Linked DNA regions of Homo sapiens. The protein of the gene in region 3 purifies or fractionates together with the protein of the main gene of each other region. This does not show direct contact. Each region holds a gene or a part of one and is shown on either strand. Other genes may lie near its edges. The genes, in order: PRKAR2B, SLMAP and IDUA.

Region 1 (3,711 bases), on a different chromosome or scaffold from region 3:
TATCCAAATTTGGTAGGTTTTGGCCTTATAAATTTGAGTTTGTTCATACAACTGTTGCCAACATTTTGTGCGCTATTTATATTAACTTACATCATATGAATTTTTTCTGTCTTCCATCAAGTTGATTGATAAGGTTTAAAAGGATGGGCTAAAGAAAAGTACTTTTGTCTTCAGAATTTCCAGGTTTTTTTGTTCTTTGATTCTTTTTCAATGAAGTGAAATCTAATATTAGACTATATTTTCCTATCACTTGCTTAAGAAGAGACAATGGAAAAGAAACAAGAATGCAGTGATTTTTCTGAATTGAATGAATTGTTACTGTGTTCTTGATCCTGTTCTTGTCCTTCCTGTCTTATCTATATCATCTAGTTGTGGTTGGGACAGTCACAAAATCCTACTCTAAAAACCTCACTATGATGCTTATCATTATTTTATGAGAGCGAATTTTGTGCTTCACAAATTCAAAATGACTCAGACGGTTTCATTATGTAATTTTATGGAAAGAATTTGAGCTAAAATTTTCAGGTCATGGCTTACATGACAACAAAACAATCAAATAAGAAAATCAGAACTATAAACAGTTGGTGTAACATTTATAAATGTTTCAGCAATAGGCTCTGCCATGTGTAGCTTAATATGTTTGGAAACTAAAAAAAAAAGTCTTTCCAGTTGCTGCTGTTTAAAAATGTTTCTTAATTAAAAAAAAGACAAAAGGTCAAAATGTAAACACATGTTCCACATAAAAGTGAAGCCAAGAAGATATACTGTATACAGTTATTCCTGTATCTGTTTGACTAAGGATGACATTGTTTAATTTACATTAGCTGTTCCAAGACAAAATAGTCCATGGGAGTGATGTTGAGGGGAATTTGGGGGGTAAAAAGAGAAGGAAAAAAGCCGTTTGTTCCATTTGTTCTAATATATTTCAGTTACACCCAAAGAGCATCTTTTTCAAAGGTCATGTTGAATTAAAACATGATTCGGCTGTTTCGTTCTCATTATTATAGAAAACTAATGTCTTTTAAATGGTGTCCTTTTAGGCCGGGCACGGTGGCTCATGTCTATAATTCCCAGCACTCTGGGAGGCCGATGCGGGCGGATCACCTGAGGTCAGGAATAGGACACCAGCCTGGCCAACATGGTGAAACCCCATCTCTACTAAAAATACAAAAATTAGCTGGGCGTGGTGGCGGGCGCCTTAATCCCAGCTGCTTGGGAGGCTGAAGCAGGAGAATCGCTTGAACCCTGGAGACGGAGGTTGCAGTGAGCCGAGATTGCGCCACTGCACTCCAGCTTGGGCAACAGAGGTATACTCTGTCTCAAAAAAATAAATAAATGGTGTCCTTTTTATTTAATACTAGTTATTATTAACATTTTTGACTACTGATGTATCAGATGTGGAACAGTGCTTTACACATTGTCATCTGAACAGATGCTTTACACATATGTGATTTAGTCTTCCCCAGAGTAATTGGTGGAATCAAGGTTTGAACCTGGTAATCTGACTTCAGGGTCTTCCTCTTCAACCACGGTTTATACACTTCATTTCAGTAATTCTTTTAGCAGTAACGTGGTTGAAAATAAGCACATATCAAAAAATAAGCTACCTACTTTTCCCTCTAAAAGTTTGCAGGCTAGCCCTGCATTGATCTCTCCCTTTTACAATTTGCATTCTCTGTCTATTCAACCCAAATTAGCATTTCATGTACCTTAGAAACTCAGTACATTTGTTTATTTTATTTTATTTTGTTTTTGACAGAGTCTTGCTCTGTTGCCCAGGCTGGAGTGCAGTGGTGCCATCTTGGCTCACTGCAGCCTCTGCCTCTGGGTTCAAGTGATTCTCCTGCCTCAGCTTCCTGAGTAGCTGGGATTACAGGTGTGTGCCACCATGTCTGCCTAATTTTTGTATTTTTGGTAGAGACAAGGTTTTTCCATGTTGGCAAGGCTGGTCTGGAACTCCTGGCCTCAAGTGATCCCACCTGCCTCAGCCTCCCAAAATACTGGGATTATAGGCAAGAGCCACCACACCCAGCCTACATTTATTTATTTTAGAAATAATCACCTCATGTACTGAGCTGCTTAATTCTCTAAATTTATTTTATTATATACCTTTATTAGCAAAATATATTTGAGTGTACACCCCAATATATGTTGATAAATTTTATACATGTGACAATATATTGACTTATATGTATGATAAAGCTTCCTACAATATAAATTTTGAAAGGAGAAAGTAAAAAGCAATTCTAAGCAAGTTGTAATTTTCTCCTACATCCCAACATATAGCCTTATACACTGTTTTGGCATACATGAACCCCGTTTTGGAGACTACAGCTGTAAACAATACCACTTAAATTGATACTCTAGTAATATATAAAGTAGCCATGATCAATTTTGGTTCCCTGATTCAAGCTTCTAGATTATAAAGAGTGTGTGTGTGTGTGTGTGTGTGTGTGTGTGTGTGTGTGTGTGTCTTTTTTAAAAGACAGTCACTCGGTAAGTTAATTGACTCAACAGAAGTTGGCAGAATACAGAGGAAAATTCTATCTTATAAAAAGGAAGTAAAACTACGTTACCTGAAGGGGAAAATCCAGGCTTTTTCTTTTAAAACCTGTTTTCCTGTATATACCTTGAATTCCAATTGTATAGTGGTAATGTTTTTGGTGCAACATTTGTGGATGGGACAAAGAGAATCGTATTATAGTTTTCTGGTTAGGAATCAGTAAATTATGGAAATACCAGTCAGAATTAGAAGAAAGTCTAAAGTTTAGAATAGTTGAAAAGAAATGCAATTTCATAGAGTATTTCAGGTTATTTTGTTAGGAGAGAGATCGTTCACTATTTGCTTTCTTGTAACTTTTGAAAAATGTTTAGCATGTGCTTGGATTACCTATTAAATAAGTGTAAAAATACATGAAAGAAAGGCAATTCTTTTGTAAATATGCATTAAGTAGTAAATAAAACACAGTAGGCCGTGTGTGGTGGCTCACAGCCTGTAATCCCAGCACTTTGGGAGGCCGAGGCGGGCGAATCATGAGGTCAGGAAATCGAGACCATCCTGACTAACTTGGTGAAACCCCGTCTCTACTAAAAATACACACAAAAAAATTAGCCTGGCGTGGTGGCAGTTGCCTGTAGTCCCAGCTACTCGGGAGGCTGAGGCAGGAGAATGGCGTGAACCCGAGAGGCAGAGCTTGCAGTGAGCTGAGATCGCAGCACTGCTTGACAGAGTGAGACTCCATCTCAAAACAAAACAAAACAACAAAACAAACAAAAACCACGGTATATAGCGGCACATGACATGATTCTAAATTGATATAGCCAAATATTCTTGTCTTAAGTCATTCTCTTGGTCCTGAATTCTCACTCCCCTCTCCCTGTCTTTCTGCTAAATCTCACTCTTTTCCCAAAGGTTTAGTTTATATTTTACCCTACCAAATATTTTTGCAAGTTTCCCTCCTTGACGTTAATACTATCAATATGGTAGGATGAATATGGCCTCCATCAGTCAACTTTGCAGATGTCAAGGGTCCTCAGTCTAGGTAGGCAAGAATGTGCAGGAATATACCCTCTCTTTCTAAGTCTTTCCTGTATGTGTTGTGCTTTGCTCACAGTAGGTGTGCAAATGTTTTTTAAAATATTGAACACTGTCTAATGGTAAATGTGTATGAATGTAAAATGATTGAAAACTTCTTAGGCATGTAAATATTT
Region 2 (3,711 bases), on a different chromosome or scaffold from region 3:
GACTTGTTTTCTATTATGGGAGAAGTTGCAGTTAGAGAACCTCTAATAGCAGTACTTTCAGCCCAACAAATGAGACTAAAATGATGTGGCCCATATACATGGAGTAGCCATTTCCTATCTGCAGGGAATATGTTCCATGACCCCCAGTAGATGCCTGAAATCACAGATAGTACCAAACCCTATATCTACTATGTTTTTTCCTATATATACACATACCTATGATAAAGTTTGACTTATAAATTAAGCATAGTAAGAAATTAACAATAATAATAAAATAGAACAATTACAACAGTATACTGTTATGTGAATAAAAGTTATGTGAATGTCAACATTCTGTCTGTCTCTCTCAAAATATCTTGTACTGCACTATAACTGAAACTGTGGAAAGGGAAACCAGAGATAAGCGGGGACTGCTGTATGTTTTACAAAGTACTATCAAGTTTCACTACTTTAAAATACATCAAGTGGGATGTAATATGAAAATATTTTAGAATATGCTGAAAATTGATCACTCCTCAAAAGAATCATGATGAGCTTATTAGAATCTGTTTTGTGATTTGTAATACTAGGAGGCCTTACATCGGGAACAAATGTTGGAACAGAAGTTAGCCACGCTTCAGCGGCTACTAGCCATCACCCAAGAGGCTTCAGATACCAGTTGGCAGGTATTCCAGTTGTTTTATATTTAAGAAACATTTAAACATAGTTTAATATTCCATACATGTTAAATAAACTAAAATGTAGCAAACAAAGACAAAGTTATTTCCTAACTAATGAACAAGTTGTTGAAGATTTAGCATTTTACAGTGGATGCTGGTCAGTTTTACGCTTTTATATCTTTTGTTGTCAGTAGCAACCTTTTTTTATATACATGTGACTTTATAATTACTCGGGTTTTACTTACATTTAATTTTTCTTCAATAGGCTTTAATAGATGAAGATAGACTCTTATCACGGTTAGAAGTTATGGGAAACCAATTACAGGCATGCTCCAAAGTAGGTATTAACCTCAAATGTGTAAAATGAAATGCATAGTTTTTTATGTAACATCATTTCTTTGACTATCATTTTGAGTATATGCTAAAAACTTCATACATTTCCACAATTCTTTTAAATCTTTTGTGCTGAGAAACGTCAGACATCCATGTAAATAAAAATAATTACATAATGAATACCCATGTACAAGTCTGTCTTTTTTCTATTGCAGTTAATATTTCTTGAAAAAACTGGGTCATTTGTCCTCTAGAATTTCCCTCAGTCTGCATTGTTATTTAAACATTTTTTAGCTCCCCCTCCCACTCCATAAAGTAGTAGTTCCATCTAGAGATTTGATGTGATTTAGGTTCAGTTTTTCTTTTTGTCAACAACACTTTATGGATGGTATTGTGTTCTTCCACCAAGGGACAACATAATGTCTAGTTGTCTTTCTTTTTGAGATTTTTATCAATCATTGATGATCCCAGGCTAGATCCATTATTTCATTACGGTTACAAATAAGGCTGGGCGCAGTGGCTCACACCTATAATCCCAGCACTTTGGGAGGATGAGGCGGGCGAATCACCTGAGCTCGAGAGTTCAAGACCAGTCCAACCGACATGGAGAAATCCCATCACTACTAAAAATACAAAATTAGCCGGGCATGGTGGCACATGCCTGTAATCCCAGCTACTCAGAAGGCTGAGACAGGAGAATCCCTTGAACCCAGGAGGCAGAGGTTGCAGTGAGCCAAGATCGTGCCATTGCAATGTAGCCTGGGCAACAAGAGTGAAACTCTGTCTCAACAACAACAACAACAACAAAAAAGTTACAAAAATAATGATGTAATTCTGTTATTCCTTCACTTATTTAGCTGGGTTACTTCTATAAAGAGAAGTTTCCTTCCATACACAGTGGCTCATGCCTGTAATCCTAGCACTTTGGGAGGCCAAGGCAGGCGGATTGCTTGAGGTCAGGAGTTCAAAACCAGCGTGGCCAACATGGCGAAACCCCGTCTCTACTAAAAGTACAAAAATTAGCTGGACATGGTGGCATGTACCTGTAATCCAAGCTACTCAAGAGGCTGAGACAGAATTGCTTAAACCCGGTGGGGGTGGAGGTTGCAGTGAGCCAAGATCGCACCTCTGAACTCCAGCCTGGGCGACAGAGCGAGACTGTCTCAAAAAAAAAAAAAAAAAAAGCGGGGGCAGTTTGAGACCAGTATGGGCAACATGGCAAAACCCAGTATCTACCAAAAATTAAAGATTTGCTTAGCATAGTGGTACATAACCTGTAGTCCTAGCTACTCGGGAGGCTTAGGTGGAAGGATCGCTTGAGCCCAGGAGTTTGTGATTACAGTGAGTTATGATCGCAGAACTGCGCTCCAGCCTTGGTGACAAAGAGAGACCCTGTCTCTAAAAAAACGAAAAAAGGAAAAACAATGGCCATTGTTTTTTGTAACTTTGGCATCAAAAACCAAATACCACATGTTCTCATTTATAAGTGGAAGCTAAGCTATAGGTATGTAAAGGCATAAAGAGTGCTATAATGGACATTGGAGACTCAGAAGTTGGGAAAGTGAGAGGGGAGTGAGGGATGAAAAACTCCCTATTGAATACAATATACACTACTCAGGTAATGAGTGCACTAAAACCCCAGACATCACCACTACATAATTCATCCATGTAACCAAAAACCACTTGTATCTCTAAAGGTATTGGAATAAAAAAATTTAAATAACCCTGAGGTATGTTTTCTACGGGGAAAGCAAGATAAGTGATTTTCTCCCCTTATTTATTAGATTTCAGAATAATGAATTGGTGGTTTTTCATCTACCAAAGACTGGCCATGAAGTGTTTTCTCACTCCACTTAGATTTAAACATATTTGATGTATTTAAATCTGGTGCAGTTGTTTTTCTTGTTTTAGAGACAGGGTCTTGCTATGTTGCCCAGGCTGGTCTTGAACTCCTGGGCTCACGCAATCCTCCCATCTCGGCCTCCCAAAGTGCCACGGCCAGCCTATTTTTCTTATTGATGCTCAAATTATCCCATCTTTGGTCTGTGTAAATGTCTTCAGAGTGATAGCTTCATGCTGTCATTTCAGACAAGATGTTTCAGGCTCATTTTGTACTTTTCCTGCCCCAGACATGAAGTCTGCTTTTCCCCCATGGTACTCTTATTCCTTTTGTTTTAACCATTGTTTCAGAATGCTTGGTGCCTTTGAAGGTAATTGATTATTTTTGCCTACAAATGTGAATATGGTGGCTTGCAGAAAATATGACAAATATAAAAGTAACTAATTTTGTATATTTTAGGGAAATTCTCAATTGCCTATAACTTTTTTTTTCTATAGGAAGTGGAAATTAGTAAGTTTGTGAAGGCATAATTTACTTATGCAACTTGTAAATACATCTTTAGTTAATACAGGGCCAGAATCATTTATGTTTGGAGGTACCTTAATATATAATTTAAAGTATATCATAATGTGTTAATTTTTTTCAAACAATAAATGCTTTTAAAAAATAACTTGTCTATAATTATAAATATCTTTTATTGTAGAATCAAACAGAAGATAGTTTACGAAAGGAACTTATAGCATTACAAGAGGATAAACATAACTATGAGACAACAGCCAAAGAGTCCCTGAGGCGGGTTCTTCAGGAGAAAATTGAAGTGGTTAGAAAACTTTCAGAAGTTGAGGTATTTCAATCAAAAAAAAAATACTAAATAGTATT
Region 3 (3,532 bases):
ACGGTTCCAGCCTGGAGCATGGAGCTGTGTGGGCACCCTGCTTCCTGACGCTGACCGTCCTTCTGCAGGGGGTCCACTGGACGGGGCCTGAGCTACAACTTCACCCACCTGGACGGGTACCTGGACCTTCTCAGGGAGAACCAGCTCCTCCCAGGTGAGCTGTGGGCTCTGCCCTCCCAGCCCGCCTGCACCCCCTTGCCCTGCCCACCCTCTCCCTCACCCAGCCCCTCTGAGTCCTTGGATGTCCATTCAGGGCTGGCCTTGGTGCCGGAGCACAGGCCTGGCAGAGCATGGGTGTGGTGTGTGGTGGGCGGTGGGGCAGCCCTCCTGTGTTCCAGGGTTTGAGCTGATGGGCAGCGCCTCGGGCCACTTCACTGACTTTGAGGACAAGCAGCAGGTGTTTGAGTGGAAGGACTTGGTCTCCAGCCTGGCCAGGAGATACATCGGTGGGCGAGCGCAGGCCCTGGGGCCCTGGCCGGGGCGGGGGTACTCCTGGGCAGGTTGCACCCCTATCACGCAGGCTGCTGCCTGGTCAGGAGATACATTGGTGGGCAGGCGCAGGCCCTTGTGGGGGGATGGGGGTGACAAGGGATAGGTTGGTGGTCGGCGCAGGCCCTGGGGCCCCAGGCTGGGGGGTACTCCTGGGCTTGGTGGGTGGGCGAAGGCCCTGGGCCCCTGGGGTGGGGGGTACTCCTGGGCAGGCTGCACCCCTATCACCCAGGCCGCACCCCTATCACCCAGGCCGCCGCCCAGGTCTTGGACCCCCTTGAGCCAGCGCTTCCTGATGTGGGGCGGGAGGCTGGCCTGCATGGAGATGGGGTTCATCTTGAGTCAGACGCCCTTCATCACCTTGCACCCTCCCTCCGTGGGAGTCACTGAGGCGAGATTCACCTGTGCTGGGGGGACAGCAAGGCTCCTCTGCAGGTAGGTACGGACTGGCGCATGTTTCCAAGTGGAACTTCGAGACGTGGAATGAGCCAGACCACCACGACTTTGACAACGTCTCCATGACCATGCAAGGTGTGCACCGCTTCCTGGGGTCCTGCCCGGCTGAAAGGGGGCAGAGGAAGGCAGGAGCAGAGGCTAAGCCGCTCATCCCCAGGGCAGGTGTAGACGCAGTGCTCCCCCGGCCCAGGCTTCCTGAACTACTACGATGCCTGCTCGGAGGGTCTGCGCGCCGCCAGCCCCGCCCTGCGGCTGGGAGGCCCCGGCGACTCCTTCCACACCCCACCGCGATCCCCGCTGAGCTGGGGCCTCCTGCGCCACTGCCACGACGGTACCAACTTCTTCACTGGGGAGGCGGGCGTGCGGCTGGACTACATCTCCCTCCACAGGAAGGTGCGCCCTGCCCCTCCGTCCGCCCCGGTGTTCTGCGCCCTCAGCCGCTGTGCCCCGGGCCGCGCTGACCCTGGTGGTGCTGAGGCGGCCCCGCCCGCAGGGTGCGCGCAGCTCCATCTCCATCCTGGAGCAGGAGAAGGTCGTCGCGCAGCAGATCCGGCAGCTCTTCCCCAAGTTCGCGGACACCCCCATTTACAACGACGAGGCGGACCCGCTGGTGGGCTGGTCCCTGCCACAGCCGTGGAGGGCGGACGTGACCTACGCGGCCATGGTGGTGAAGGTGGGCCGGCCCAACGCCCTGCGCGCCCCCCGGCCACCTTCCTCCCGAGACGGGACAGGCGAGCGGTGGCCGCGCCACCCGGTCCCAGCTGCCCTGGACACCCGCAGGTCATCGCGCAGCATCAGAACCTGCTACTGGCCAACACCACCTCCGCCTTCCCCTACGCGCTCCTGAGCAACGACAATGCCTTCCTGAGCTACCACCCGCACCCCTTCGCGCAGCGCACGCTCACCGCGCGCTTCCAGGTCAACAACACCCGCCCGCCGCACGTGCAGCTGTTGCGCAAGCCGGTGCTCACGGCCATGGGGCTGCTGGCGCTGCTGGGTGAGCCGGGGCCGCTGGGGTGGGCCGGCCAGGGCCCTCCAGGCTGGGGAGCGGCTCCTGCGAAGGCCCCGCTGCGGGGAGCGCACTTCCTCCAGCCGCGCGCTTCCCGGGGTCGGCCTCCGCGTGGCGGGGCCTGGGGACTCCTTCACCAAGGGGAGGGGGAGCGAGTGGTGGGAGGCCCGGCCCTGGGTCGGGGGGCGGCTGGGCAACGACCCCACGCGGCGACGGCCCCCCCCCGCCCCGCAGATGAGGAGCAGCTCTGGGCCGAAGTGTCGCAGGCCGGGACCGTCCTGGACAGCAACCACACGGTGGGCGTCCTGGCCAGCGCCCACCGCCCCCAGGGCCCGGCCGACGCCTGGCGCGCCGCGGTGCTGATCTACGCGAGCGACGACACCCGCGCCCACCCCAACCGCAGCGTCGCGGTGACCCTGCGGCTGCGCGGGGTGCCCCCCGGCCCGGGTAAGCCGGGGTTCCAGGGAGGTCTCTGGCCCCGCTGGGGCTCTGGAGGGGGCGGCCCGGGGAGCCGAGGCCTGAGTGTCAGGCCCCGCAGGCCTGGTCTACGTCACGCGCTACCTGGACAACGGGCTCTGCAGCCCCGACGGCGAGTGGCGGCGCCTGGGCCGGCCCGTCTTCCCCACGGCAGAGCAGTTCCGGCGCATGCGCGCGGCTGAGGTAGGTGGGCCGCGGAGGGGCGAGGGGCCGGGCCGGGCCGGGGTCCCGGGGGGGTGGGGTCCGGGGCGGGGGCTCCGAGGCGGTGTGGGTGGGAGGTGGAGCGGTGGGCCGGGGGCGTTCGCCCTGAGGTCGGGCCGAGCGTCCCCAGCTCCCCTGGAGAACCCTGAGGACCGGCCACTGCGCCCAGGACCCGGTGGCCGCGGCGCCCCGCCCCTTACCCGCCGGCGGCCGCCTGACCCTGCGCCCCGCGCTGCGGCTGCCGTCGCTTTTGCTGGTGCACGTGTGTGCGCGCCCCGAGAAGCCGCCCGGGCAGGCAAGTGGCAGTCCCCTAACCCGCGCCGCGGCCCGGACTCCCCTTCCCCGACGCCATCACAGCCCTTCCCTCCCCCAGGTCACGCGGCTCCGCGCCCTGCCCCTGACCCAAGGGCAGCTGGTTCTGGTCTGGTCGGATGAACACGTGGGCTCCAAGTGCGTGAGTGGGGCCGCCCCTCCCTCTGCCTGGTCCTAGGCAGGTCCCTGGGTCCCGACCCCTTCACCCATGCGGTCACTCGGGCCACTTGCCGTGGCCCATCGGCTCCCTCCCTCGCCGCCCTGCGTCCCTGCCCTTCACCCCACACACTGTGGGCCACGCGCCAGGCCCTGCCAGTGGGGTGTGGGTTCTCCTAGGGGACATGAGATGGACATTCGGGCTCCAGCCCTCTCCTGCCTGGGCAGGAAGAGTGCCCAGGGGCTGGGGAGGTGCCGCCGAGGGGCTTGAGGGAATGAGGCTGTGGGTCCACGCGGCCGTGCCCTGCCTGCTCCCACCTTTGAGGACTGTCTTGACCCCAGCCTTGTTCTTGGCCTGACCTCCCCAGGTGCCTGTGGACATACGAGATCCAGTTCTCTCAGGACGGTAAGGCGTACACCCCGGTCAGCAGG

Evidence for each region.
Region 1: the proteins of IDUA (region 3) and PRKAR2B fractionate together in Homo sapiens (co-fractionation; one large-scale study listed by BioGRID). This does not show direct contact.
Region 2: the proteins of IDUA (region 3) and SLMAP fractionate together in Homo sapiens (co-fractionation; one large-scale study listed by BioGRID). This does not show direct contact.

Annotation. Positions count from the first base shown.
Region 1 is NC_000007.14:107,051,097-107,054,807, forward strand, and holds part of PRKAR2B (cAMP-dependent protein kinase type II-beta regulatory subunit), read left to right. Parts: intron 1-3,711. UniProt on the Homo sapiens protein: Regulatory subunit of the cAMP-dependent protein kinases involved in cAMP signaling in cells. Type II regulatory chains mediate membrane association by binding to anchoring proteins, including the MAP2 kinase.
Region 2 is NC_000003.12:57,857,164-57,860,874, forward strand, and holds part of SLMAP (sarcolemmal membrane-associated protein), read left to right. Parts: intron 1-569; coding exon 570-665; intron 666-924; coding exon 925-996; intron 997-3,535; coding exon 3,536-3,676; intron 3,677-3,711. UniProt on the Homo sapiens protein: Associates with the striatin-interacting phosphatase and kinase (STRIPAK) core complex, forming the extended (SIKE1:SLMAP)STRIPAK complex.
Region 3 is NC_000004.12:1,000,544-1,004,075, forward strand, and holds part of IDUA (alpha-L-iduronidase isoform a precursor), read left to right. Parts: intron 1-68; coding exon 69-154; intron 155-338; coding exon 339-446; intron 447-924; coding exon 925-1,020; intron 1,021-1,135; coding exon 1,136-1,338; intron 1,339-1,438; coding exon 1,439-1,618; intron 1,619-1,725; coding exon 1,726-1,942; intron 1,943-2,188; coding exon 2,189-2,401; intron 2,402-2,492; coding exon 2,493-2,614; coding exon of another isoform or gene 2,615-2,801; coding exon 2,802-2,927; intron 2,928-3,005; coding exon 3,006-3,082; exon of another isoform or gene 3,083-3,086; intron 3,087-3,468; coding exon 3,469-3,532.